Linked DNA regions of Homo sapiens. The protein of the gene in region 1 binds, or shares a complex with, the protein of each later gene. Each region holds a gene or a part of one and is shown in the gene's direction. Other genes may lie near its edges. The genes, in order: ECSIT, TMEM186, ACAD9 and NDUFAF1.

Region 1 (8,314 bases):
GAGGCTACAGTGAGCTATGATCATGACACTGCTTATTTTTTTTTTTTTTTTTTTTTTTACAGAATCTCACTCTGTCACCCAGGCCGGAGTACAGTGGCATGATCTCAGCTCACTGCAACTTCCACCTCCCAGGTTCAAGCAATTATCCTGCCTCAGCCTCCTGAGTAGCTGGGATTACAGGTGCCCACCACCATACCGGGCTAATTTTTGTATTTTTAGTAGAGATGGGGTTTCACCATGTTGGCCAGACTGGTCTCGAACTACTGACCTCAGGTAATCTGCTTGCCTTGGCCTCCCAAAGTGCTGGGATTACAGGCATGAGCCACTGTGTCCAGCCATGCCATTGCATTTTAGTTTGGGTGAAAAATAAATAAATAAGAAAAGAAAAGAATGCTTGACGGCCGGGTGTGGTGGCTCACGCCTGTAATCCCAGCACTTTGGGAGGCCAAGGCAGGCGGATCACGAGGTCAGGAGATCGAGACCATCCTGGCCAACATGGTGAAACCCTGTCTCTACTAAAAATACAAAAAATTAGCCGGGCGTGGTGGCGGGCGCCTGTAGTCCCAGCTACTTGGGAGGCTGAGGCAGGAGAATGGCGTCAAGCTGTGGGGCAGAGCTTGCAGTGAGCTGAGATCGTGCCACTGCATTCCAGCCTGGGCGACAGAGCGAGACTCTGTCTCAAAAAAATAAATAAATAAATAAATAAATAAATAAATAAATAAAAGAATGCTTGACAACATGTAACGCAGAGGAGGCTGTGGGAACATTGTTGATGAGTGTGGGCAATTTGTTGATAGTTTCCCAAATGACAAATGTCCTTACCTTCTGAACAAGTATATCCTCTATTTTAGAATATTCCTCAGAAGTACAAGTGTAGGTGTGAAGAATGACATATGTACAGGAACATTTATTGCAGTGGCCTTGTCATAATAAATCACTATAAATCCCATCAACCTGGGACAAGGGAGATAGACAAAGTTGAAGTTAAAACATATAGCATGTTGTTTCAACTAAATGAAGACACTGTAGCGCTGTGGTTAAGAGTGGGGACTCCAGCTGGGTGCAGTGACTCACGCCTGTAATCCCAACACTTTGGGAGGCTGAGGCGGGTGAATCACCTGAGGTCAGGAGTTCAAGACCACCCTGGCCAACATGGTAAAACCCCATCTCTACAAAAACTACAAAAATTAGCTGGGCGTAATGGTGGGAGCCTATAATCCCAGCTACATGGGAGGCTGAGGCAGGGGGTTTCACCATGTTGGTCAGGCTGGTCTTGAACTCCTGACCTTGTGATCTGTCTGCCTCGGCCTCCCAAAGTGCTGGGATTACAGGTGTGAGCCACCGCATCCGGCCCATTGCGTTTCTTTCTTTCTGTCTGTCTGTCTGTCTGTCTGTCTGTCTGTCTATCTATCTATCTATCTATCTATCTATCTATCTATCTTAGAGATGAGGTCTCACTATGATGCCCAGGCTGGACTTGAACTCCTGGGTTCAAGTGATCCTCCTGCCTCAGCCTCCTAAATAGCTAGAACTACAGTGCCACTGTGCCTGGCCCTCATTGCATTTAATTGTCATATCTCCATACATTCCTACAGTCTATAATAGTCCCTGGGTCTTTCAGGACCTTGACACTTTTGAAGAGTGCTGGTCAGTTATTTTGTAGACTGTCTTCGAGTTTGGTTTGTCTTGAATAAACTGAGGTGTTTGCATTACCAGGAAGAATACCAGAGAGGTGATGATGTATCCTTCTAAGTGTGTCATACCAAGGGCTTCATGATATCACCATGACTCATTGCTGGTGATATAAATGTTGGTCCCTTGGTTAAGGTGGTGTCTGCTAGGATCTTTCACTGTGAAGCTACTACTTTTTATAGGGTTCTTTCTGGGACTGTAATGTTAAAGATTCTGCACCAGGGCCTCACATATGGTGTTCTGTGTTAATACATACAGTACATAAAATATGTACATTCTTGGTTTTTTTGTTGTTGTTTGTCTGTTTGTTTTTTTGAGATGGAGTCTTGCTCTGTCGCCCAGGCTGGAGTGCAGTGGTGCAGTCTCGGCTCACTGCAAGCTCCGCCTCCCGGGTTCACACCATTCTCCTGCCTCAGCCTCCCGAGTAGCTGGGACTACAGGCGCCCACCACCACGCCTGGCTAATTTTTTGTATTTTTTTTAGTAGAGACTGGATTTCACCTTGTTAGGCTGGATGGTCTTGATCTCCTGACCTCGTGATCCACCCGCCTCGGCTTCCCAAAGTGGTGGGATTACAGGCGTGAGCCACCGCGCACGGCCTGTACCTACTTGTTTTTAAAAGACTACTGGCCTGGTGTGGTGGCACATGCCTATAATCCCAGCACTTTAGGAGGCCAAGATGGGTGGATCGCAGTACCCCAGGAGTTTGAGACAAGCCTTGGTAACATATTAAGATCCCATCTCTATTTTAAAATAATAATAATAGGCCGGGCATGGTGGCTCATGCCTGTAATCCCAGCATTTTGGGAGGCCGAGGCTGGCAGATCACGGGGTCAGGAGATCAGACCATCCTGGAGAACACAGTGAAACCCCGTCTCTACTAAAAATACAAAAAAATTAGCTGGGCATGGTGGCGGGCGCCTGCAGTCCCAGCAACTGGGGAGGCTGAGGCAGGAGAATGGCGTGAGCCCAGGAGGCGGAGTTTGCAGTGAGCCGAGATCGTGCCACTGCACTCCAGCCTGGGCGACAGAGCAAGACTCTGTCTCAAAAAATAAATAAATAAATAAATAATAATAATGACTGGGCACGGTGGCTAATGCCTGTAATTCTGACACTTTGGGAGGCTGAAGCGGGAGGACTGCTTGAGCCCAGGAGTTGGAGACCAGCCTAGGCAACATGGTGAAACTCCATCTCTACTAAAAATACAAAAATTAGCCGGGTATGGTGGCATGCGCCTGTAGTCCCAGCTACTCGGGAGGCTGAGGCAGGAGAATTGCTTGAATGTGGGAAGCGGAGGTTGCAATTAGCTGAGATTGCACCACTGCACTGCAACCTGGGCGACAGAGCCAGACTCCGTCTCCAAAAATAAAATAAAATAAAATAAAATAAAATATTAAAAGACTAGTTCTGGAAGGATAAATAAGAAAACAAAAGCCATGACCACCTCAAGAGAAGGACACCAATAACTCTGAAGGCCACAGCCAGGTCAGCGACCCCATCATCTTACCCACTCCCCAGCTAAGCAGAGCTGACTCTGCTTGCTTGTAGCTGCGGGAGCCTGGCAGAGGGCAGTAGCGCTCCCAGCCGCTGCCCACGTGCCTGTCAACTTGCCAGAGAGGAGTGCTCCAGCCAAGCAGCTGATTGGCTACAGGTTTTCTCAGATTGCCCAATCACAAGAGTTCTGATGAGGTGGATGTCCTGCGGCTGCGCAGAGTCCTTGAGGCATCCTAAGGGTAGGTTCTTGCATCCTAGTCTCCATGCCAGCTCACTGCGCCACAGAGGCTGAGGGACTGCAGAAATGGGCTTATGAGGGCAGATAGCCTTCCTTCCCGGGGGACACTGTTATTGCCAATAGCCCATTTTATGTGCTTATCCACCTTAGTTATTAACAGCCTAAATCTGGTGCTTTCTGGGGGAGACCAGGAGCCCCCATTACTCAATCTCACCTCGTTTTATCCCATTTCCTCCAAAGACTCCACTCCGACCACACAGAGTCTTTGCTGTTGTTCCCAGTGCCAAAAGCGTTCCCCAGATATCCAGATGGCTCACTCACTTCCTCCGGCCTTTACTCAAAGGACACCTCACTGAGGCCTTCCTATTTATTTATTTACTGAGACGGAGTCTCACTCTGTCGCCCAGGCTGGAGTGCAGTGGTGCTATATCGGCTCGCTGCAACCTCCACCTCCTGGGTTCAAGCAATTCTCGTGCCTCAGCCTCCCGAGTAGCTGGGATCACAGGAGCACGCCACCACGCCCCACTAATTTTTATTTATTTATTTATTTTTTGAGACAGAGTCTCGCTCTGTTGCTGAGGCTGGAGTGCAGTGGTGTTATCCTGGCTCACTGCAACCTCCGTCTCCCGGGTTCAAGCGATTCTCCTGCCTCAACCTCCCGAGAAGCTGGGATTACAGGCACCCACCACCATGCCCTGCTAACTTTGTATTTTTAGTAGAGACGGGGTTTCATCATGTTGGCCAGGCTGGTCTCGAACTCCTGACCTCAGGTGATCCGCAGGCCTCGGCCTCCCAAAGTGTTGGGATTACAGGCGTGAGCCACCGCGCCCTGCCCTATTTATTTATTATTACTATTTTTAGAAACAGGGTCTCACTCTGTTGCCCAGGCTGGAGTGCAGGGGTGCAATCATGGCTCGCTGTAGCCTCGACCTCCAGGGCTCAAGCGATCCTCCCGTTTCAGCCTCCCGAATAGCTGGGACTATGAGCATGCGCCATCATGCCCAGTTAATTTTTAAATTTTTTGTAGATAAGGGGGTCTCGCTATGTTGCCCAGGCTGGTCTCGAACTTCTGGCCTCCCAAAGTGCTGGGATTACAGGCATGAGCCACCGTACCGGCCCCCTTTCACTTTTTGTTTTTTTTTAATTCATTTTCTCATTTCAGCCGCTGGGGCCTGCGACTGGATTCATAGACTATGACTCCCAAGTCCAGCCTCCCGGGCCATTTCAAGGTTCCCAGGTCTGGAGTGCGTCTTGCCTCATTAGAGGCTGGGCCTGGCTCGTTATGAGGCGGGTCCCAGATCCTTCCGCCTTCCTATTGGCCCACCTCGCGTTGTGGGCGGGACCTATTACACCAGCTTTCTTGATTTGCTACCTCCCTGGAGCTCCCTGACCCGGACGCTCTCTGGGCCAATATGGCAGCGCCCAGCAACAAGACAGAGCTGGCCTGGAGTCCGCGGCTGGCCGCGTGAGTAGGTAGGTCGCGCGCGGGTAGGCGAACGCGAACTGCTGGGCTGCAGGCGGGCCCTTCAGGACCCGGCAGCGCGAGAGGGCAGCCCTGGAGGGACCCAGCTGCAGGGCCAGGGCGCCATGACCTTTCGTAGTGGGGGCGGGGACGCGCTGGGAAAGGCCGCCTGTCTTGTGCCAGCCGCCTCACGCCCCCAGTCTCCCATTTTGCAGATGACCTCGCGAGAGGTCACGCCGCAAGTCGGCAACCGGGCAGGATTTGGAATCCGCGTCTGCCTTTTTCCCCCAAGAGACCCAGAATCCTGGCAGCCGGTTTCAAAGCTGTTGTACGTACACCATACCTCGGGGTTCAGATTTATAGGTGTTTTTTTGAAATTGAGGCTTGTTTCCGTTCAGTTGTTACTCGTTAGGCATCTGTCATATACCAGGCACTGTCCTTGGTGCTGGAGACACAGCAATGAGGAAGATAGATAAAAATCTCTCATCTCCTGGGGGAACCAGACTTTGAACAAATTAGAAATAAACGAAACAGGTGATTTCAGATACTGATAAGTTACTAAAAATGCGTTAATGGTGTCGGGAATTTCGCTTGAGCCCAGGAGTTTCGAGACCAGCCTTGGCAACATAGCAAGACCCTGTTCTCTACAAAAAATTATCTGGGCGTAGTGGTGCACGCCTGTAGTCCTAGCTACTCGGGAAGCTGAGGTGGGAGGATTGCTTGAGCCCAGGAGGTTGAGGCTGTAGTGAGCCGTGATTGTGCCACTGCACCCCAGCCTGGGCAACAGAGCAGGACCCTGTCTCCGAAACAAAAATTAATAGGGTGATGAGGGCTTTTAGAATGTGGGGAATGGGAGATGGTCAAAGAAGACCTTTCATTGAAATGACCAGAGACAGCTGTGGGCAGATCTGGAGGAAGAAAGCTCTAGACAGAGAGAAAAGCAAGTACAAAGGTTCTGAGATGGGATAAACTTAGTTTCTTTCAGAAACAGTGTAGCTGAAGCTGCCAGTGGTAGGAGTTGAGTTTAGAGGGGTAGACCCTATCTGATTTTATTTATTTATTTTTATTTTTTAGAGACAGGATCTCACTTGTTCGTCAAGCCTGGAGTGCAGTGGTGCAGTGCACTCCATAGCTCACTGCAGCCTCAAACTCCATGGCTCAAGTGATTCTCCTGCCTCAGCTTTCCCAGTAGCTGGAACTACAGGTGCACACCACCAGGTCCAGCTAATTTTTTAAAATAATTTTTGTAAAGATCGTGTCCTGCTATGTTGTCCAGGCTGGTCTTGAACTCCTGGGCTCAAGCGATCCTCCCCACTTGGACTTCCAAAGCACTAGGATTATAGGCATGAGCCACTGCTCCCTGGCTATTTATTTATTTTTAGAGACAGGATCTCAGTATGTTGCCCAGGCTAGAGTGCAGTGGCTATTCACAAGTGCAGTCATGGTTCACTGCAACCTCTAACTACTGACCTTAAAGGATCCTCCAGCCTCAGTCTCCTGAGTACCTGAGATGACAGGCATTCACCACCATGCCTGGATAATTCTTAATTTTTTTGTAGAGATGGGGTCTCTCTATGTTGCCCAGGCTGGTCTTGAATCCCTGGGCTCAAGTGATCCTCCTACCTTGGTCTCCCAAAGTGTTGGGATTACAGGCATGAGCCAGTGTGCCCAGTCTCTGATTTTAAGTGTGATATGCCGTTAGCGATTTTAGGCAGAAATCACTAATTTTAGTTGATTTATTTATTTATTTAGCGATGGAATCTCGCTCTGTCGCCCAGACTGGGGTGCAGTGGCACAATCTTGGCTCATTGCAACCTCCACCTCCCAGGTTCAAGTGATTCTCCTGCCTCAGGCTCCCGAATAGCTGGGATTACAGGTGCCTGCCACCACACCTGGCTAATTTTTGTATTTTTAGTACAGACGGGCTTTCACCATCTCGGCCAGGCTGGTCTTGAACTGACCTTGTGATCCACCTGCTTCAGCCTCCCAAAGTGCTGGGATTACAGGCGTGAGCCACAGCGCCTGGCCTAATTTTAGTTTAAAAGCTCCCTCTGGCTGGGTGTGGTGGCTCACACCTGTAATCCTAGCACTTTGGGAGGCCAAGATGGGTGGATTGCTTGAACTCAGGAGTTCGAGACCACCCTGAGCAACATGATGAAACCCCATCTCTACTAAAATACAAAAAATTAGCTGGGTGTGGTGGCACACACCTGTAGTCCCAGCTACTCGGGAGGCTGAGGCATGAGAACCAACTTGAACTGGGGAGGCGGAGGTTGCAGTGAGCCGAGATGCGCCATTGCACTCCAGCCTGGGGAACAGAGTGAGACTCTGTCTCCAAAAAAAAAAAAAAAAAGCTCCCTCTGGCCATAGTGGGGAGAACTGACTGGAGGCAGGAAGGGCAAAAGTGGGAGGCTTGATAGGTATCCAAGTCATAGATTGAGGTGGTGGCTTCAGATAGAAAGAGATGCATTTGGGATGGATTTGGAAGTAGTCACCTAGACTAGTTGATGGATTGAATAGGAGAGTGAGGGACATAGTGGACTCAGAAATGTCTCCTAGGTTTGTAGCCTGAATGGCCAGTAGTAGTGGTGCGATTGGATAGGATGGAGAGGATCAAGTTTAAGCAAGGATATCAGTTTGGAGCAAATTATGTTTGAGATGGCTGGGTATATGCCAAAGTGGCAGTTAGGTATAAAGGCTGGGGCCCAGGGATTGAGGTGAACATTGGGGAGCCATCAGCACACAGATCACCACTTCTCAAACTTTAATGCTCACAGGAGATACCAGGGACTCGCTAAAATGCAGATTTGGGCCTGGCGCAGTGGCTCATGCCTGTAATCCCAGCACTTTGGGAGGCCAAGGCAGGTGGATCACAAGGTCAGGAGTTCAAGACCAGTCTGGACAAGATGGTGAAACCCTGTCTGTACTAAGAACGCAAAAATTAGCCAGGCATGGTGGCATGTGCCTGTAATCCCAGCTACTCGGGAGGCTGAGGCAGGATAATTGCTTGAACCCAGGATACGGAGGTTGCAGTGAGCCAAGATTGCACCACTGCACTCCAGCCTGGGCGACAGAGCAAGACTCCGCCTGGGAAAAAAAAAAATGCAGATTCCAGTTCAGTAGGTCTGGGATAGGGCCGAGATTTTGCTTTTTTTTTGAGATGGAGTTTCGCTCTTGTTGCCCAGGCTGGAGTGCAATGGTGTGCTCTTGGCTCACTACAAGCTCTGCCTCCCAGGTTCAAGCAATTCTCCTGCCTCAGCCTCCCAAGTAGCTGGAATTACAAGCATACACCACACCCGGCTAATTTTGTATTTTTTTTTTTTTTTTTTTGTTAGTAGAGACAGGGTTTCTCCATGTTGGTCAGGCTGGTCTCGAACTCCCGACCTCAGGTGATCAGCTGGCCTGGACCTCCCAACGTGCTGGGATTAC
Region 2 (8,574 bases), on another chromosome or scaffold:
GCCTCGGCCTCCCCAAGTGCTGGGATTATAAGCGTGAGCCACCGCGCCTGGCATCCACTTACAATTTCTTACAGGCCAGGAGGCCCTGTGGCTATGGAGATGAATAACCCATACTCCTGCTCTTCAAAAACATATAATCGGATAGTTTACAATAATTACAGAATGCTACATTAGCAAGGTTGTACACTAGAATCTCTCAGAGGTACTCACTGAAATAGGATTCCCAGGCTCCACAGACCTATCAAGTCAGACTCTCCAGTGAAGGGGTCAATAAGCCTCTCTGGTTTTTCGGGGTCCTGTGCTGGAGATTCTGTTTCAGTGATGGGGAGGTGAGGGGGGCTGTCAGAGGGACAATATGAAGACCGGTCTGACTGGGGCTAGAAGGGCTGTCAACGGGTACAAGCAAGAAGTATTCCAGGCAGAGAGATTATCATGTGCAGATACAGCCACTGACCTTTCTAGGTGAATCTACTCACACATCTGAGTACCCAGTTCTCCATCAGTAACTCCAGAAATGTACTGGATTAAAAGCAGAGGAAAAGCAAAGGCCAAGAAAATGTTTCCCAAAAAAGGAAGCAGAAAGCCCGCCATATGGGGACAAGGTTTTAGGGCAGCCTATGATACTTGGCAACAATATCCTCATAAGAAGTTAATCTTTTACCAGATGTAATTAGCAACCCATCATTTACCATCATTTCCCAGTTGCTCCTGCACTTTCTCAAAGTCCGATCCGCCTACCACTCCGATTTTGATCTTCTGCCTCAATTTTTGTAGGAAGTCATCCATTTCTTTGGTAATTTTCTAAATTTCAAGAAAGAAAATACAACAGTCATAAGCCACACAATAATCAGGAGACCAAAACTCTAAGGGTAACACAAGTACATAAGTCTTATTTTCTTATTTAAAAATTAAAGAAAAAATTTTTTTTTGAGATAGGGTCTCACTTGTCACCCAAGCTGGAGTGCAGTGGCATGGTCATAGCTCATCGCAGCCTCGACCTCCCTGGACTCCGGTGATCCTCCTATCTCTGCCTCCTGAGTAGCTGGGACCATAGTTATGTGCCAGCACACCTGGCTAATTTTTTTATATTTTGTAGAGACTAAGTTTTGCCATGTTGCCCAGGCCAGTCTGGAACTCCTGGGTTCAGGAGATCCACCAGCCTTGGCCTCCCAAAGTGCTGAGATTACAGGTATAAGCCAGGTCTATAAGCCTTATTTTCATACATGCCAATTAAGTTACCAGCTCTGTACATAGTTCAAATATTTTAGTTGTAACTGGGGGGGCATCTTTACCAGAATAAACTTAAGTGTTATTTTTACCAAATTTTAAACACAGGTAATATGTTAGTAGCTGTTGTGCACTGTCCCAGCTATTTTTCTATGCATTTATATACCCATCTATGGGCACATATACAAATAGGTCTTATTTTTGAAACATAAATGGAATCATGTCCTGTGCAGGGACTTTGGTTTTTCAGCACTATGCTGTGGTGATCTTTTCATGCCAACACAGATCTAGCTCATCATTCCTTTTAAATGCTACACTATACTCCATTTATGGATTTAAGTTGTTGATTTTAAAATAAAACAACATAATGAAATTAAAGAGGAAGCTTAGGGCCAGACATGGAGGCTCATGCCTGTAATCCCGGCACTTTAGGAGGCCGAGGCGGGTGGATCACCTGAGGTCAGAGTTCGAGATCAGCCTGGCCAACGTGGCGAAACCCTGTCTCTATTAAAAATACAAAAATTAGGCGGGCGCGCTGGTGGGCGCCTGTAGTCCCAGCTACTCGGGAGGCTGAGGCAGGAGAATCACTTGAACCCGGGAGTCAGAGGTTGCAGTGAGCCAAGATCGTGCCACTGCACTCCAGCCTGGGTCACAGAGCGAGACTTCGTCTCAAAACAAAACAAAACAAAACAAAAAAAAAAAAAAAAGGAGAAGCTTAGAATTGATTTTATTGCAATCACCCAAAACAAAACAAAAATGTAAAAGAGTAAGATAACTAGATTTTTTAGTCTCTTCTAAAAGCAAAGCTCCTATCTAGAAAGAGTGGTCTTAGTGGTATAATCTTATGGTAAATTCCAAACTGTGTGATAATTTTAAAAAAGTTATAAACTAAGATGAAAAAATAGCCCTACATTAAGACACATCACAATGTATTTTTACAAGTCTTATAACTCAGCACTTTGAGCAATCTCAGTTGTACATTTACACTGAATGTCTTTTTTTTTTTTTTTTTGACACGAAGTCGTGCTCTGTCACCCAGGCTGGAGTGCAATGGTGTGGTCTCGGCTCATTGCAACCTCCACTTCCTGGGTTCAAGCGATTCTCCTGTCTCAGCCTCCCAGGTAGCCAGGATTACAGGCGCCCGCCATCATGCTCGGCTAATCTTTTTGTATTTTTAGTAGAGACTGGGTTTCACCATGTTGGCAAGGCTGGTCTCGAACTCCTGACCTCAAGTGATCCACCCGCCTCAGCCTCCCCAAGTGCTGGGATTATAGGCATGAACTACCGTGCCCGGCTGAATATCTTTTTACTAGAAATTTAGAAAATACAAAAAACCATTTAATTCAACCTCAGTATATAAACACTTGGAGTTCAATGATTTTTCTTTAAAAAACTTTTTTAGAGTAATACATGAATGTGATTAAAATTGTACAGAAGGGTTTGTAATAGAGTGCAATCTTTTCTACTCTCACAGTGGAATCTGGACCTATTAGACAGAATCTAGAATTGGAGGAGTGGCCTTTAAAAGTCAGAACACGGTGGCTCACGCCTGTAATCCCAGCACTTTGGGAGGCCGAGGCGGGTGGATCACGAGGTCCAGAGATAGAGACCATCCTGGCCAACACAGTGAAACCCCATCTCTACTAAAAATACAAAAATTAGCCAGGCGTGGTGGTGCCTGCCTGTAGCACCAGCTACTTGGTTGCCTGAGGCAGGAGAATTGCTTGAACCTGGGAGGTGGAGGTTGCAGTGAACTGAGATTGGGCCACTACACTCCAGTCTGGTGACAGAGTGAGACTCTGTCTTAAAAAAAAAAAAAGAGTCAGAACTGTGAAAATCAGAAAATCAGAAGCACTTTCCTGAATGGCATACCCAGTGACTAGAACAGCTTCCACCTTAGCACAGATAGGAAATGGCAAACTTGACAGGAACCAATATCCTGAGGCCCAGAGACTTGTACCAGGTTGGCTGTGTGAAACTGAGGAGGTTAGTTCTTCACTGAGTGTGTTTCCTTATGTTTAAAACGGTAATAACAACTATCCTACCTGGGAAGAAAGATGGAGGAAGGTTGAGAGGGTTCAGTGATATGAAAAAGGGTGGCAATGTAAACCCTAGACCACTATGGCCCACAGACCACATTGGGCAGCTGTTTGTTTTTGTAATAAATAAATAAAATTTTATTGGTACACAGCCACTCTTATTTATATAGGGTTTATGGCTGGTTTTGCACTAAAGTTGAGTGGTTACTATAGACCACATAGTCAGCAAAGACAGAGAAGTATTTGCTATATGGCCCTTTACAAAAAATGAATTGGGGACCGGAGTTTTAGACCACTATGGGCTTTTAACAAACCCAAGTGTGTGATCACTGAATTTCAGAATCAGAAAAAGCCTTTGAAGAACTTGGGAGTTGAGCGTCATCACTAGGTAAATCAAACCTGTGGCTGAGAAGGGCAAAATGATACGTCTAAGGTCACACGCATTTGACCTGGACTTCTGGAGCACACCATTGTTACCACCAAGCGAAAACTATGAGGGGTGAGGGTAGAAGCTGAGGATAGTGAGACCATTGGGGTCCAGTCTCAAGTTGAAATGGCCAGTGTTCAGTGGCCAATTTCTGAAAAGGGGCCAGGAGAGCCTCACCTCAAGGCTGATCGTAACTGAAACTTATCTGTGCCTGTAGCAGCAAAATCTGAAAGTGGAAAGCAAGTTTCCAAGGGCCCAAAGAGGCTCTCAGCGGGCAGCCTGTAATAACCTAGGGCTCCTCCATCTCCCTAGTCCATTGCAGGGGCTGGAGATGGGTGTGGTGGAGGTGGCTACTATTTACTGAGGCCTAGTGTGTTGTGTCCAACATACTTTCAAGAACTTACACAATCTCATTTGATCCTCACAGACACCATATGGAACAGGTAACATCCCCATTTAAAGCTGTAGATGTTGAGGCTCAGAGAGGTTAATGACTCGCTGAAGGTCACACAGATGTCAAGAGGTGAAGATGAGACTCCACTAGGTCGGTTTGACCTGGAAACCTGTTTTTAATATCATGACTCACGGCACAGCCCATTGGTTACAGGATTGGGGCCGACACATAGCTGATAAGGGGGCCTGATCTTGGGTTGAAATCCTGGTCTATCAGTCCCGAGCACTAGCGGTGAGTCCAGATTACATTTTCCAACCTAGCACAAGTTTCCTGCTCTTAAGAGTTCTTCAGCCCCGTCTCATCTTTCCAAGCACCAGAGCTCTTCAAGAGCTGGTTAGGGCCTCCCTCTCATTCCTCCAGTGCACCCAGAATAGGGTTCAGCGCCGTGAGGACGTAGGCGGTCCTTAGCCACCCCTTGGCGCCTACCCTGGGTGGTCGATAGCCCCAACTGGGAACAGCACGGGCTCCGCGTCGGCTGCCAGCAGCCCGCCGGCCGCCACTTACCTGCCGCGGGGCGGTGAGGGTCCCATCCACGTCGAAGAGGCAGAGCGCTGGGCCAGGCGCTGCCATGTCCCCAGTTTCTAGCCGCACCTTACAAGACACGTTGGCACGAGGAACTCGGCCCGGAACTTCCGGGTTCGGCCGCTGAGTCGCAGGGCACGTCGGGAAGAGGAGGGGACTCCGTTCCCATAACGCCTGGGAGTAGCGGCAGCCACGATTCCTGGACCGCAACTCCCAGGGTGCAACGCAGATCACGCCCGCCTTGTACATTCGAGCATGCGCTCTTAGGGGTTCCGGGGGCCGGTGGGATTTACTTCCGGCAGCAGGTGGTGGGGCCATGGTAAGGAGGCGGGTGGCGAGCCTTGAGGGGGTGATGCTCTTTGGGGTCGGGGTCAGGGCTGGGGCGGGCAGGCCCGACGCTCGGGTTTCGGACTCCGAGGATCCGTGGGAGGAAGCTCTGGCGTGTGTTACAGTTCGCTTTTCCCGGGCTTTCTCTTGCCCTCCTTGGGTCACATGCGCACAGTAGTAGTAGCTAAAACTCGCCGAGCTCTCACAGTGCATTAGGTACTAAGTTGAGGACTCTGAAACCATCCTCTGGTTCACTGTGTTCTGAGTCCCCATTTTGAAAGGCGAAGAAACCGAATCTCAGGGGTGTGGAGTAATTTGCTCACAAATTACTGTTGGAGCCAGAATTGGAATAAGAGCTTTTACTGCTTCACTACCCACCTAGTAATACCCTTGTGCTACGTGTTGGGGCCTCCCTGCCTCGCTCCTTCTCCTTCTCCGCTGTTTCCCCTTCCCCAGACTAGGCTAAGAGAAAGCAGCAGTTCCCTCCAGCACCCAAGATAGCATATGAATCAAACAGAGAATTAGAAAGTTTATTGGAATAAATATCTCACAGATTTGTTGCTCGAGTTCCCCACTAAGACACTGATTATTTAGTTTCCTGCTTGGGGAAATGTTCACACCCCCTTGTGGATACATTGTCCAGCCCAGAGTTTGTCCTCCCTGGATATGTTTTGAATTAATGACGGCCGCACCTCCTTTCCTGTATTTATTTGGAATTGCCTGGTGGAAGGAGGACTCTGCTGCACTCACTGACTGTGTGATCTTTGGTAAATATCTTACCCTCTCTGGGCTTAGTTTCCCTAGTGGTAAAGTGGAAATAGTGATAACTATCTTAGATAGCTGTTGTGATGCCCACATGAGATAGCATCTGGCTTTACCCTTCCCTCGTCTGGCAATAACGGTTACCTTGCAGGATTGGCAGAAGCCTTAGAGTATGGTGCTTTGCAGATGTTCACCGTGTGATTAATGTGGTTGAGTTCCATGAGAGAAATGGTCTACTGTCTCCCTTTCAGGCTGCCCTTCTCCGAGCTGTGCGTAGGTTTCGGGGAAAAGCTGTGTGGGAAAGGCCTCTCCATGGGCTGTGGTGCTGCAGTGGGCAGGAGGATCCTAAGAGGTGGGTGGGCAGCAGTTCACCCATCTCGAAGGAGAAACTACCAAACGCAGAGACTGAGAAATTCTGGATGTTTTACCGTTTTGATGCCATCAGAACCTTCGGGTTCCTGTCACGACTGAAGTTGGCACAGACTGCCCTGACAGTGGTAGCTTTGCCACCAGGCTATTACTTGTACTCCCAGGGCCTCCTCACTCTCAACACCGTGTGCCTCATGAGTGGGATATCGGGCTTTGCCCTGACCATGCTGTGCTGGATGAGCTATTTCTTACGGAGACTGGTTGGTATCCTGTATCTGAATGAGTCTGGCACCATGCTGCGGGTGGCCCATCTGAACTTCTGGGGCTGGCGGCAGGACACATACTGTCCCATGGCAGATGTGATTCCCCTGACAGAAACCAAGGACCGGCCTCAGGAGATGTTTGTGCGTATCCAGCGGTACAGTGGGAAACAGACCTTCTACGTCACCCTGCGCTATGGACGCATCCTGGACAGAGAGCGTTTCACACAGGTGTTTGGGGTACATCAGATGCTCAAGTGAACAACTGGGACCTGGACCTCTGGGTAACCCTGGGTCGCCTGGATTAACAGGAAGGCTGAGGGTGTGGGCAAGGCTGAAGAAAGGGGACTGGGTACTTGGAGACTTTGCCTGGGCCCCTGGGAACATGTGTTTTGTGGTGAATAAATTCACAAGGCAAGAGCTGGTGTACAGGTTTAGGAAAAAGGCTCTAAGCAAGTTCTTACAGCACTTGTTTGTGACATTCAGTCAGATAATGGCCAGAAGTTTTTGTTAAGAGCCAGTTCTTAGAAGAACCTATGCCAAGGTCACCCATAGAGTCCATTGGTGTGAAAGAGAAAGGCAAAGAGGTGTGGCGGGGGAGCGTAAGATTTGGAGTCAGAAGTCTCAGTTCTGTCATTTGTCCTGGAGCAGGTTATTGAGTCTCTTTGAATCTTGGTTTTCACATCTGTAAAATGGAAAGTCCTGCTTGTTTCATGGGATGGGTGTGGGAATAAACAATAAATGTCAAACGTGTGGCAGACTCAACAGCCTACAGCAGATATTATTAAGCATTTGGTCAGAGGTTTTAGCAGGGAGAAAGGCTTCGAGCAGTCAGCAGGGACTTCCAGAGCCCTGTGCTGTGCCCCTCACATATCCAGCGGCAGAAGGGTCTGTCAGGATGTTAACTACACATTGACGAGCAGATGTCGTCCAGGTAGGCACGAAACCCCAGTTGAGATTTGTTCACCACCCAGAGGTCTAGAGGCTCTTGCTTTGGATGGCCCTGCAGTGTAATAAAGCCAAATGCACCGGATGCTGGTACGTTATTTTATAAACTTAAGCCAGTTATATACATTGCCCCACATAATTAATAATATATGTTCATTATACAATTTGTAACACAGTAAAGAGGAAGGAAGGCATGATCTTTATTATTTTGCCACTCGAAAGTCAATAAGAATGTTTTATCGCTGGGGGCGGTGGCTCACACCTGTAATCCCAGCACGTTGGGAGGTCAAGGTGGCGGATCACGAGGTCAGGAGATCGAGGCCATCCTCGCTAACAGGGTGAAACCGTGTCTCCACTAAAAAATACAAAAAAATTAGCTGGGCGTGGTGGCAGGTGCCTGTAGTCCCAGCTACTCGGGAGGCTGAGGCAGGACAATGGTGTGAACCTGGGAGGCGGAGTTTGCAGTGAGCCGAGATCACGCCACTGCACTCCAGCCTGGGCGACAGAGTGAGACTCCGTCTCAAAAAAAAAATATTTTTTTTTATTGTGTAGCCTTCCATTTTTCTTAACCATACCAAGATACACCTAACAAATTTATCCTTTTAATCATTTTTAAGTGTGCAATTCAGGGACATTAAGTATATTAACAATGTTGTACAGGCTGGGCACACTGTCTCATGCCTGTAATCCCAGCACTTTGGGAGGCTGAGGCGTGTGGATCACTTGAAGTCAGGAGTTCAAGACCAGCCTGGCCAACATGGCAAAACCCTGTCTCTACTGAAAATACAAAAATTAGCTGGGCATGGTGGTGGGCACTTGTATTCCCAGCTACTTGAGAAGCTTGAACCCGGGAGGCAGAGGTTGCAGTGAGCCGAGATTGCACCAATGCACTCCAGCCTGGGAGACAGCCAGACTATCTCAAAAACAAACAAAACAAAAAATGTTGTACAACCGTCACCACCATCTATTTCCAGAACATTTTCATTATCCCAAACAGAACTAATATACCCATTGAGCAATAATTTCCTTCTTTTTCCAGCCCTTGGCAACCACTAACCTGCTTTCTGTCCCTCTGGATTCACCTGTTCTGGATATTTCATATAAATGGAATCATACAATATGTGACCCTTTGTATCTGGCTCTTTTTTTTTTTTTTTTTTGAGTTGAAGTCTCGCTCTGTTTCCCAGGCCAGAGAGCAGTGGCGCGATGTCCACTCACTGCAACTTCCGCCTCACCAGC
Region 3 (3,892 bases), on another chromosome or scaffold:
GCTCCGCAACCACGACCACGAGGTGAGCCCAGCCCAGCCTCACACAGGGCCTGGCTGCTGCCATCTGTCCTGCTGCACTTTAATGAAGTTGATTGTTGAGGAGGGTGTGGTCGGGTGTGGGGGAGGCTGTGCAGGTTCACCATGCGGTGGCCGTGGGAGGGTCTGTGCTGCTCAGGAGATGGGGCTGTTCCCTTTCTTCTTCCTGACTGAGAGAAGAGGGGGTGAGTGACAGGGGTTCCTGATCCCAGTGCCCCTACCCCCAGCAAGGGACAGACCCTGCACATTGCCCGCTGTGCTGGAGGGAGGCGGGTGCAGTCTCTGAGGACCCACTGTATACCAGGATCTCTGCCTGCACTTTCCAGAGCACCTGCAGATACCAGGATTGTGACATCTGCCTTTCAGAGGAAACAGGGTCAGAGATGTTGAGTCACTTGCTGTTGGGGAAAGGCTGTTGGATCAGGGCTGGAATTAGAACCCAAGACGGGGTGACTCCTGTGCCAGGCCTTGTGACCCCTGCCATGCTACCCAGTTTGGCTGATAGGCTGGGTTTTTGAAGCTCAGAGGTCTGATTCCAGGAATTTGGGCATATCTTTTCTGTCCTCGGTTCTGGCAGGTTCTCTTGGCCAACACCTTCTGCGTGGAAGCTTACTTGCAGAATCTCTTCAGCCTCTCTCAGCTGGACAAGTGTGAGTGGCATGTCTTGGGGGAGGGAAGGAAGGGCCCACTTCTAGGCCCCTATTGATGGTGAGCTGTTTCTGGACCCTGTCAAGCTCCCAGAGCCTGCTAGCTACTCACAGACCTCTGCCTTGAGCGAGGGCCTGGGTAGGCCTGGGCTTAGCTGCAGCAGTGCCCACCAGGCACTGTAGGTGCATACCTGCCCCATTCACCAAGGCAGTTGTATGTATATATGTGTGTGTGTGTATGTATGTATGTATGTATTTATTTCGAGATGGAGTTTCGCTCTTGTTGCCCAAGCTGGAGTGTAATGGCGCAGTCTTGGCTCCCTGCAAACTCCACCTCTTGGGTTCAAGCGATTCTTCTGCCCCAGCCTCCCGAGTAGCTGGGATTACAGGCGCACGCCACCACGCCCGGCTAATTTTTTGTATTTTTAGTAGAAACAGGGTTTCACCATGTTAGCCAGGCTGGTCTCCAACTCCTGACCTCAGGTGATCTGCCTGCCTCAGCCTCCAAAAATGCTGGGATTACAGGCATGAGCCACCGCACCGGGCCTGCCAAGGCAATTTTAGATTGAGCAAGTGCAGAGCCCTTTGCGCAGGACCCCTGGCATCTGCCCAGCATGCCTGGCTGTATTCTCTTTTTTTTGGAGACATAGTCTCACTTTGTCACCCAGGCTGGCTGGAGTGCAGTGGCATGATCTTGGCTCACTGCAACCTCCACCTCCTGGGTTCAAGCAACTCCTGTGCCTCAGCCTCCTGAGTAGTTGGGATTATAGGCACGCACCACCATGCCCAGCTAATATTTGTATTTTTAGTAGAAACAAACAGGGTTTCACCATGTTGGCCAAGCTGGTCTCCAACCCCTGACCTCAGGTGATCCGCCCACCTTGGCCTCCCAAAGTGCTGGGATTACAGGCATGAGCCACTGTGCCCAGCCCTGGCTGTATTCTTGAAGCTGCCCGGGGAAGGCTCACGAAGGGAGGAGCATCTGGTTGTACCTGATTCTGGAGACAGCATTTTACCTGCCCCTTTACCCACTGTACTCCATCCAAAATGACCCTGCAGTGCCCTGCAGAGGTCTCAGGCCTTGGCCTAGAGAACAGAGGGCTTTGCTCGTGCTCCCCGCTCTGTCTGCAGTGCTCTTCCTCTTCTATAGCCACTCGACCATATCTAGGAATGCCCAGCTCAGTCTACCTCTGACCCTCACAGTCCTGTTGACCTGAGGTTCTGGATCAGTGTCCCCACAAAGCCCAGTCGTGTTGCCAAGTGATGGGTGTAGGCGCCAGCACTGTGGCACTTGCTGAGAGTGGCATATGATTTTTTGCAGGTCCTAGCCCTGGGGGTAGCCCAGACACCCCCCCAGTGCTGACAGGTTATGTGCTGTGGAGGGTGCTGAAATGGTTTCTCCTCCAGTGGGCTGGAATCACAGATGGGCTGTTTACGGAGCAAGTGCCGGCTCCACCCCATGAGATCTGGGGGTTAGAGATGAGCAGGATGAGTCCTTTGTAACTGAGAATGAAGCTGTACCCCTTTCTCTCCCTGCAGCCCTGAATCACTTGCTGGGGGTCTGGAGGAGGGGTTCACCCTTAGGGCTGCTTCATGGTGGGTGGGCTGACTTTGTGGAAAAATGCCCCCACTTCAGCCATGTTTGTCTTATCACGGTGCAGAAAGATCACCCACCATCTCTCCTTTTCCTTCCCAGATGCTCCAGAAAACCTAGATGAGCAGATTAAGAAAGTGTCCCAGCAGATCCTTGAGAAGCGAGCCTATATCTGTGCCCACCCTCTGGACAGGACATGCTGAGGCAGGGGACAGTGTCCCCTGCTACCGCCCGCCCCTACCCATGGCCCGTTGCTGGATGACTGTTACTCTTTTTTCAGAAGGTGTTGGGATTATCACAGGTTAAGCCTTTTGTTCCCCGTCTGCACCTGAAGGGTTGTCGCCTGGCCTGGGAGAGCCTCTTCCAGGTTTTGACCTGCAGGCAGTGCTCTCTAACAGGACCATCACAGCTTCTGAACTGAGCCGGAGAGAGAGAATGGAATTGCTGACCCCTGGAACTGGCGGGTATTCTGGTCATTGAGGAGACACCATAGTGGAAACTGGGGCTTATGCTGCTGCCTCCAGGGTGTGAGGTGGGTGGGGACCTGTGTCAGGTGTGGATAGCCATTTCTGCTCAACCACACATTCTCTAAGAAACAGCTTGAAAGCTCTGTCTGGGTCATTCATTTAAACTAGAAGCAGAGGCACTTAAAACATGTACCAGGAACCATTTAACAAAGAATATAAAATGTCACAATCTGTGTACTGTTAGCCTTTGCTGTACTTGTCACACTGTTCCTTAGAACCAGCCTTTAATGGGTGACAGCAGGACCCTGAGAACCACCCTTTGGTGATGGCCTCGGGTCCCCTTTGTCCTCACCCTGCAAGGAGGGCCCAGAATGCTAAGGAGCAGACACACAGTGCAGGCCACAATCCCTTGGGGTTATGAGCCCTTAGTTTTTATCCTTCTCAGGAGATGATGGGGAGGCTGTCTCAGCTGATGATGTTCCCACCTAGGGACTTTAGTTTCTTTACAAGAACTGGCTTCTACTCTTGAGGAGAGGATGAATGGTATCTCCAGGCCAGCAGGCCTTTGCATTTCTCCAGCCTCCCTTCTGCTGGCACTTGAAAGATTACACCAGGTCCCAGCGTGCTCACTGTGGTGAACTTTAAGCTTTGATGTGGTCCTTGGGTGGTCTGGAGCTCTAAAATGCCTATTGTGGACACTCCCTTGAGCACAGAGAAGGCAGCCGACTCTTTTTCCTCCAAGTATATTCCCAATTTACTGTGATGCTGGAAATAGGCAAGGAGGAGACTGGGAACTTGGAGAGCTGAGCTGGCTGAGTGGGGCTGGCCTGAGCATTCTGCCAGGGGTTTGGTAACTAGTTTTTAAAATGGGGAAAGTTTGTAAATATTGTGACCGTGTAAATAACCTCTCAGTGAAACCTGAAGTTCTGTTAGTGATAGCAGGGCAGCATTTTGCACAAAATGAAGCATGCATACCTCTGGACAGAAGGCTGCTTAGAGTTTCTTTGCACAGGAGAAGTTTGGGGAGGGGCTGTCAGACCCACCCCCCTTCTGTGCAGCCTTCTGGAAGGGGGCTTCACTCTAGGCTGGTGGCGTGTAAGGCCTCAGTCTTACATGCCAATGGAGAATGGCAAGTTCTCCATTCATCC
Region 4 (7,897 bases), on another chromosome or scaffold:
TTTTAGCCGGGATGGTCTCGATCTCCTGACCTCGTGATCCGCCCGCCTCCGCCTCCCAAAGTGCTGGGATTACAGGCGTGAGCCACCGCGCCCGGCCTGTATTTTTTTTTTTGAGACAGAGTTTCACTTTTGTTGCCCAGGCTGGAGTGCGATGGTGCAGTCTTGGCTCATTGCAGCCTCTGCCTCCCAGGTTCAAGCGATTCTCCTGCCTCAGCCTCCCGAGTAGCTGGGATTACAGGTGCCCACCACCATGCCCAGCTAATTTTTTTTTTTTTTTAGTTGGAGTCACTCTGTCGCCCAGGCTGGAGTGCAATGGCACGATCTCGGCTCACTGCAACGTCTGCCTCCTGGGTTCAAGCGATTCTTATGCCTAGGCCTCCCAAGTAGCTGGGATTACAGGCATGGGCCACCACACCTGGCTAATTGTTTGTATTTTCTGTAGGGGTTTCACCATGTTGGTTAGGCTGGTCTTGAACTCCTGTCCTAGGTGATCCGCCTGCCCTGGCCTCCCGAAGTGTTGGGATTACAGGCATGAGCCACCGTGCCAGGCCAATTTTTGTATTTTTAATGGAGACGGGGTTTTACCATGTTGGGCAGGCTGGTCTCCAACTCCTGACGACAAGTCATTTGCCTGCCTAAGACTCCCAGAGTGCTGGGATTACAGGTGTGAGCCACTGTGGCGGGCTACAATTTTTGGTTTTTTTATTTTTTTTGAGATGGAATTTCACTTTTGTCACCCAGGCTGGAGTGCAGTGGTGCAATCTCGGCTCACTTGCAACCTCCGCCTCCTGGGTTCAAGTGATTCTCCTGCCTCAGCCTCCCCAGTAGCTGGGATTACAGGCGCTCTCCAACATGACCAACTAATTTCTGTATTTTTAGTAGAGATGGGGTTTTACCATTTTGGCCAGGCTGGTCTTGAACTCCTGACCTCAAGTGATCCGTCCACCTTGGACTCCCAAAGTGCTGGGATTACAGGTGTGATGCACGGCACCCGGCCAACATTTTTTAAAAAAATTAGCTGGGCATGGTGGTGTGCACCTGTAGTCTCAGCTACCTTGGAGGCTGAGGTGGGAGAATCATTTCAGTCCAGGGCCCAGGAGTTCAAGGCTACAATGAGTTATCGATCTTGCCACGGCGCTGCAGCCTGGGTGACAGAGCAAGAGACCCTGTCTCTTTTTTTTTTTTTTTCACATGGAATTTTGCTCTTGTCCAGGCTGGAGTGCAGTGGCGTGATCTCGGCTCACTGCAATCCCTGCCTCCTGGGTTCAAGTGATTCTCCTGCTTAAGGCTCCCTAGTAGCTGGGATTACAGGCGTCTGCCACCACGCCTGGATTATTTTTAGTAGAGATGGGGTTTCACCATGTTGTCAAGGCTGGTCTCGAACTCCTTACCTCAGGTGATCCATCCGCCTCGGCCTCCCAAAGTGTTGAGATTACAGGCGTGAGCTACCACACCTGGCCTGACCCAGTCTCTTATAAAAAGAAAAGAAAAAAAAAAGGCCGGGGACAGTGCATCATTCCTACAGCCCAGCACTTTGGGAAGCCGAGGGGAGAATCACTGGATCCTAGGAGTTCAAAACCATCATGGGCAACACAGGGAGATCTATTTCTTTTTCTTTCTTTCTGTTTTTTTTTTTTTTTTTTTTTGAGACAGAGTCTCGCTCTGTTGCCAGGCTGGAGTGCAGTGGCACGATCTTGGCTCACTGCAGCCTCCTCCTCCCAGGTTCAAGGAATTCTTTTGCCTCAGCCTCCTTAGTAGCTGGGACCACAAGTGCGCACCACCACACCCAGCTAAGTTTTGTATTTTTAGTAGAGACGGGGTTTCACCATGTTGGCCAGGATGGTCTCAATTTTTTTTTTTTTTTTTTTCCCGAGACAGAGTCTCGCTCTGTCGCCCAGGCTGGAGTGTAGTGGCGGGATCTCCGCTCACTGCAAGCTCTGCCTCCTGGGTTGACGCTATTCTCCTGCTTCAGCCTCCCCAGTAGCTGGGACTACAGGCGCCCGCCACCACACCCGGCTAATTTTTTGTATTTTTAGTAGAGACGGGGTTTCACCGTGTTAGCCAGGATGGTCTCGATTTCCTGACCTCGTGATCCACCCGCCTCGGCCTCCCCAAGTGCTGGGATTACAGGCGTCAGCCACCGCGCCCGGCCCAGTCTCTATCTCTTGACCTCGTGATCCACCCACCTCAGCCTCCCAAAGTGCTGGGACCGTGCCTGGCCAGGGAGATCCATTTCTACAAAAAATTTAAAAATTAGCTGGGCATGGTGGTGTGTGCTTGTAATCCCAGCTACTTGGGTGGCTGAGATGGGAGGATCATTTGAGCCCAGAAAGTAGAGGCTACAGTGAGCTGTGATTGTGCCACTGTACCCAGCCTGGGCCACAGAGCAAGACCTTGTCTCAAATAATAATAATAATAATAGTAAACAAATAAGTTAACAAACTTCAAAATACCTGATTTCTGTTGAATTTGAAATTGTGATGCATTCATTGCTATGCTGATAATTCTTCAATGTCTCTTCTGTTATAGGTAGAATTGGGCTATTTGCTGAAGCTTCTTGGTGGCCCTTGCTAGCCCAGGAAGAAACTTACATTTTGATTTTTTTGTACCATGGCTTTGGTTCACAAATTGCTGCGTGGTACTTATTTTCTCAGAAAATTCTCTAAGCCAACTTCTGCCTTGTATCCATTTTTGGGTATTCGCTTTGCAGAGTATTCCAGTAGTCTTCAGAAACCAGTGGCTTCTCCTGGCAAAGCCTCCTCACAGAGGAAGACTGAAGGGGATTTGCAAGGAGATCACCAGAAAGAAGTTGCTTTGGATATAACTTCTTCTGAGGAGAAGCCTGATGTTAGTTTCGATAAAGCAATTAGAGATGAAGCAATATACCATTTTAGGCTTTTGAAGGATGAAATTGTGGATCATTGGAGAGGACCGGAAGGCCACCCTCTGCATGAGGTCTTGCTGGAACAAGCCAAGGTTGTCTGGCAATTCCGGGGGAAAGAAGATTTGGATAAGTGGACAGTGACTTCTGATAAGACGATTGGAGGCAGAAGTGAAGTGTTTTTGAAAATGGGCAAGAATAACCAAAGTGCACTGCTATATGGAACTCTGAGCTCTGAGGCGCCTCAGGACGGGGAGTCTACCCGAAGTGGGTACTGTGCAATGATATCCAGGATTCCAAGGGTAGGTGAGGCCCAGGAGCCATCGTTTTCTAGTAAACAGGGGTGAACTTCATTGTAGCATAAACTATAGAAGATAGCTTTTGTTTCTGTAAATGAAAACACCTGGCATGTTATATTTGGCACCTCACCTGTGTCTGGGGATAAGTAACTATTGGCACAAGTGTGAAGTGGAAGCACAAGGGGGAAGTGGTTTCTGAGGAGGAGGAGTTAACTTGTTTCTGCGCATTGCTTTGGGCCAGGAACGAGCATTGTTATGTTTCAGGAATCCTGAGAGGTTAGACATTTGAAAGATTTTTGGAGAGATTTTCATCTCCTCTAAAAAAGACCACAACCTCTGTAATGACCAGGGGTTTTGTAGAGTGGATGTAGGGTTAGCCTGTGGCTTTCTTTTTTTTTTTTTGAAACGGAGTCTTGCTCTGTCGCCCAGGCTAGAGTGCAGTGGCGTGATCTCGGCTCACTGCAACTTCCGCCCTCCAGGTTCAAGCGATTCTCCTGCCTCAGCCTCCTGAGTAGCTGGGACTACTGGTGCACACCACCACGCCCAGCTAATTTTTGTATTTTTAGTAGAGACAGGGTTTCACCATGTTGGCCAGGCTGGTCTTGAACTCCTGACCTCAGGTGATCCACCCCACCCTTGGCCTCCCAGAGTGCTGGACATGGTGGTGCATGCCTGTAATTCCAGGTACTTGGGAGGCTGAGGCAGGAGAATTGCTTGAACTCTGGAGGCAGAGGTTGCAGTGAGCTGAGATCGTGCCATTGCACTCCAGTCTGGGCAACAAGAGCGAAACTTTGTCTCAAAAAAAAAAAAAAAAAAAAAAGGCCGGGCGCAGTGGCTCATGCCTGTAATCCCCACACTTTGGGTGGCCAAGGTGGGCGGATCACCAGGTCAGGAGATCGAGACCATCCTGGCTAACACGGTGAAACCCCGTCTCTACTAAAAATACAAAAAAATTAGCCGGGTGTGGTTTTGGGCGCCTATAGTACCAGCTATTCGGGAGGCTGAGGCAGGAGAATGGTGTGAACCCAGGAGGCAGAGCTTGCAGTGAGCTGAGATTGCACCACTGCACTCCAGCCTGGGTGACAGAGCAAGACTCCGTCTCAAAAAAAAAAAAAGAAAAGAAAAGAAAAGAAAAGAAAAAGTCATTGCTCCATACGACCAGGTAAAGGAAATACATTCATTTCCATTCATTGAACACAGGTGAGTGCCTACCCCATGTAAACACTGTCCTGGGCCAGTTGTGTGTTGAACATTACCTTAGAAACATATAACTATGTCAGTATTTTGTGCTAAAATAATAATCACTGGGTTTATGTGCCTTCTTATGGGGCAGAAAGTCAGAAAAATGGTTAGTGCATCCTGTTGATGATGCTGACTTGGTGATGACTCACATTTTGCTAATAATGGAGAATGAGGTACAATGAACTTTACTTTCAATATCTTAGGGTGCTTTTGAGAGGAAGATGTCTTACGATTGGTCCCAGTTCAATACTCTGTATCTCCGTGTACGTGGGGATGGTCGGCCTTGGATGGTGAATATCAAGGAGGACACAGATTTCTTCCAGAGGACGAATCAGATGTATAGTTACTTCATGTTCACCCGCGGGGGACCCTACTGGCAGGAGGTCAAGGTAACAGCATAAATCTTCATTGTTTATAAAAATGAGGTCTTGGCTGGGTGAGGTGGCTCACGCCTATAATCCCAGCAATTTGGGAGGCCGAGGTGGGTGGATCACCTGAGGTCAGGAGTTCGAGACCAGGTTGGCCAACATGGTGAAACCTAGTCTCTGATCGTGCCATTGTACTCCAGCCTGGGCAACAGAGTGAGATGAGACTCTGTCTCAAAAAAAAAAAAAAAAAAAAAAAAAAGTCTTGGAGATGATTGTTACATTGTAGTTTCTTTTTTGTTACTAATCTTTCTTGGAAGGTGGGGGTGGGTGGGTAGAAGAAAGGTTAAGAGACATAAATGAATTTTGTTTCATTAATATAAATGTTAACATACTAACTAGTGAATATTTTTGATATGGATGTGGCCAGGTCCATGCTAAGTCACAGGCACATCTCTGCTCTGTGTCCAAATAGATGGGGTTTGTTTGTTTTTTAGAAGTTTCTGCCATTTCATGTCTTCCAGGCAACTCTGCTAAAGTTGGTGTCCTAGGCCTGCGTGGTGGCTCACACCTGTAATCCCAGCACTTTGGGAGGCCAAGGCGGACGGATCACTTGAGGTTGGGAGTTCGACACCAGCCTGACCAACATGGAGAAACCCTGTTGTCTCTACTAAAAAAAATACAAAATTAGCTGGGCGTGGTGGCGCATGCCTGTAATCCCAGCTACTCGGGAGGCTAAGGCAGGATAATTGCTTGAACCCAGGAGGCGGAGGTTTCGGTGAGCCGAGATCGTGTCATTGCACTCCAGCCTGGGCAACAAGAGCCAAACTTTGTCTCAAAAAAAAAAAAAAAAAAAAAAAAAAGTAGTGTCCTAGGCCAGGCGTGGTGGCTCATGTCTGTAATCCCAGCACTTTGGGAGGCCAAGGTGGGTAAATCACCTGAGATCAGGAGTTTGAGACCAGCCTGGCTAACATGGCAAAACCCCATCTCTACTAAAAATACAAGAATTAGAGGCCAGGCGCGGTGGCTCATGCCTGTAATCCCAGCACTTTGGGAGGCCGAGGTGGGCAGATCACGAGGTCAAGAGATCGAGACCATCCTGGCCAACATGGTGAAACTCTGTCTCTACTAAAAATAAAAAAATTAGTTGGGTGTGGTGGCGTCGTCCCAGCTACTCAGAAGGCTGAGGCAGGAGAATCGCTTGAACCTGGGAGGCAGAGGTGGCAGTGAGCCGAGATGGGCCACTGCTCTCCAGCCTGGCGACAGAGTGAGACTCCATCTCAAAAAAAAAAAGGCCGGCCGCGGTGGCTTACGCCTGTAATCCCAGCACTTTGGGAGGCTGAGGCGGGTGGATCACGAGGTCAGGAGATGATGGAGACCATTCTGGCTAACACAGTGAAACCCCGTCTCTACTAAAAAAATACAAAAAAAATTAGCCGGGCTTGGTGGCAGGTGCCTGTAGTCCCAGCTACTCAGGAGGCTGAGGCAGGAGAATGGCGTGAACCCGGGAGGCAGAGCTTGCAGATCGTGCCACTGCACTCCAGGCTGGGCGGGAGACTTCGTCTCAAAAAAAAAAAAAAAAAAAAAAAAATTAGCCGGGCATGGTGGTGTGTGCCTGTAATCCCAGCTACTAGGGGGGCTGAGGCAGGAGGATTGCTTGAACTTGGGAGGTGGAGGTTGCAGTAAGCTGAGACCGTGCCACTGCACTCCAGCCTGGGCAACAGAGCAAGACTCCGTCTCAAAAAAAAAAAAAAAAAAAAACTCAACAAGAAAGTCCCCATTTTGCTCATGTCATATACTTGAGGGTCATCCTGAATTCTTCTCCTTTGCCCCACATCCAGTCTATTAGCGAGTCCTGTCACCTCTGCTTCCAAAATACACTCAGCAGCTGACCATTTCTAGCCATCTCTTCTACTCCCACCCTGGTCCAGGTGTTTGGATTATTGCAGCAGCTTCATTATTGATTTCCCTGTTTGTCTTCTTGCCCCACTAAAATCCTGGCTCCACAGCAGCCAGAGTTATCTTTCTGAAGCATAGTTCAGATGACATCATTTACATGCTTGTAAGCATGTAAATGTACCTCCTAAGCATGTAAGCTGTATTAGTCTGTTCTCGTGCTGCTGCTATGAAGAAATACCTGAGACTAGGTAATTAATAAAGGAAAGAGGTTTAATTGACTCACAGTTCTGCAGGGCTGGGGAGGCCTTAGGTAACTTATAAAATCATGGCAGAAGGGGAAGTAAACACATCCTCCTTCACATGGTGGCAGGAAAGAGAATGAGAGCCGAATGAAGGGGTAATCTCCTTATAAAACCATCAGATCTTGTGAGAACTCACTGTCACTAGAACAGTATGGGGGAAACCACACCCATGGTTCAGTTAACTTCACCTGGTCCCTCCCTTGACACATGGGGATTACTACAATTCAAGATGAGATTTTGGGTGGGGAGACAGCCAAACCATATCAGGACCCTTCAGTGGTTTCCCATTACAATTCGAATAAAGTCCAGGCTGGGCTAGGTGGCTCATGCTTTTAATCCCAGCACTTTGGGAGGCTGAGATGGGCAGATCACTTGAGGTCAGGAGTTTGAGACCAGCCTGGTCTACATGGTGAAATCTTGTGTCTACTAAAAATACAAAAAATTAGCAGCAGGTGGTGGCACACGCCTGTAGTCCCAGCTCCTCAGGAGGCTGAGGCAGGAGAATCGCTTGAACCTGAGAAGTGGAAGTTGCAGTGAGCCAAGATCGCGCCACTGTACTCCACCCTGGGTGACAGAGTAAGACTCCATCTCAAGAAAAAAAAAAAAAAAAAAAAAGAATAAAGTCCAAACTCCTGCACATGGCCTATGGGCCTACAATATCGGACCCCTGTCTTCATCTTCCATCTCTCCTCCTGTCTTCATCTTCCATCTCTCCTCCTACCTCCTTCCTCCACACCAGCCCCTTTTCTGTCAGATTTAACAACCTCATTTCCATCTCAGAGCTTTGCACTTAGTGTTGCTCTGCTGTAATGCTCTGCCCCCATGTCTTCACCTGCTTTCTCTTTCCTGTCATTCACCTCTCGGCTCAAAAGTTGCCTCAGAGAGGCCTTTCCTGATTCCTGTAACTAA

Evidence for each region.
Region 2: ECSIT (region 1) and TMEM186 share a complex: the UniProt entries of both Homo sapiens proteins name them as parts of the mitochondrial complex.
Region 3: the proteins of ECSIT (region 1) and ACAD9 are in contact, whole or in part, in a cryo-EM structure (PDB 8PHE), measured with the Homo sapiens proteins. Residues at the interface, in NP_057665.2 of Homo sapiens: Pro321, Glu322, Glu323, Trp324, Asn325, Leu326, Tyr327, Tyr328, Pro329, Met330, Leu332, Asp333, Leu334; in NP_054768.2 of Homo sapiens: Leu180, Thr181, Asp188, Ala189, Ala190, Ser191, Ile192, Lys228, Lys239, Asp240, Lys241, Ile242, Phe293, Ala296, Met297, Leu300, Ile431, Met434, Tyr435, Leu438, Thr439, Leu441, Gln442, Gly445, Thr449, Leu516, Gly520, Lys521, Ile523, Met524.
Region 4: ECSIT (region 1) and NDUFAF1 share a complex: the UniProt entries of both Homo sapiens proteins name them as parts of the mitochondrial complex.

The regions. Positions count from the first base shown.
Region 1 is NC_000019.10:11,525,644-11,533,957, reverse strand, and holds the start of ECSIT (evolutionarily conserved signaling intermediate in Toll pathway, mitochondrial isoform 1 precursor), read left to right. Parts: upstream 1-4,823; 5' UTR 4,824-4,896; intron 4,897-5,092; exon of another isoform or gene 5,093-5,213; intron 5,214-8,314.
Region 2 is NC_000016.10:8,794,026-8,802,599, reverse strand, and holds TMEM186 (transmembrane protein 186), read left to right. Parts: upstream 1-4,960; 5' UTR 4,961-4,985; coding exon 4,986-4,988; intron 4,989-6,009; coding exon 6,010-6,648; 3' UTR 6,649-7,420; downstream 7,421-8,574. Other genes in the region: PMM2 (phosphomannomutase 2), read right to left, coding at 690-801, 4,652-4,717. UniProt on the Homo sapiens protein: As part of the MCIA complex, required for efficient assembly of the mitochondrial complex I.
Region 3 is NC_000003.12:128,910,128-128,914,019, forward strand, and holds the end of ACAD9 (complex I assembly factor ACAD9, mitochondrial), read left to right. Parts: coding exon 1-22; exon of another isoform or gene 23-136; coding exon of another isoform or gene 137-206; intron 207-613; coding exon 614-686; intron 687-2,379; coding exon 2,380-2,480; 3' UTR 2,481-2,987; downstream 2,988-3,892. UniProt on the Homo sapiens protein: As part of the MCIA complex, primarily participates in the assembly of the mitochondrial complex I and therefore plays a role in oxidative phosphorylation.
Region 4 is NC_000015.10:41,391,773-41,399,669, reverse strand, and holds part of NDUFAF1 (complex I intermediate-associated protein 30, mitochondrial precursor), read left to right. Parts: intron 1-2,529; 5' UTR 2,530-2,610; coding exon 2,611-3,183; intron 3,184-4,625; coding exon 4,626-4,811; intron 4,812-5,311; exon of another isoform or gene 5,312-5,565; intron 5,566-7,897. UniProt on the Homo sapiens protein: As part of the MCIA complex, involved in the assembly of the mitochondrial complex I.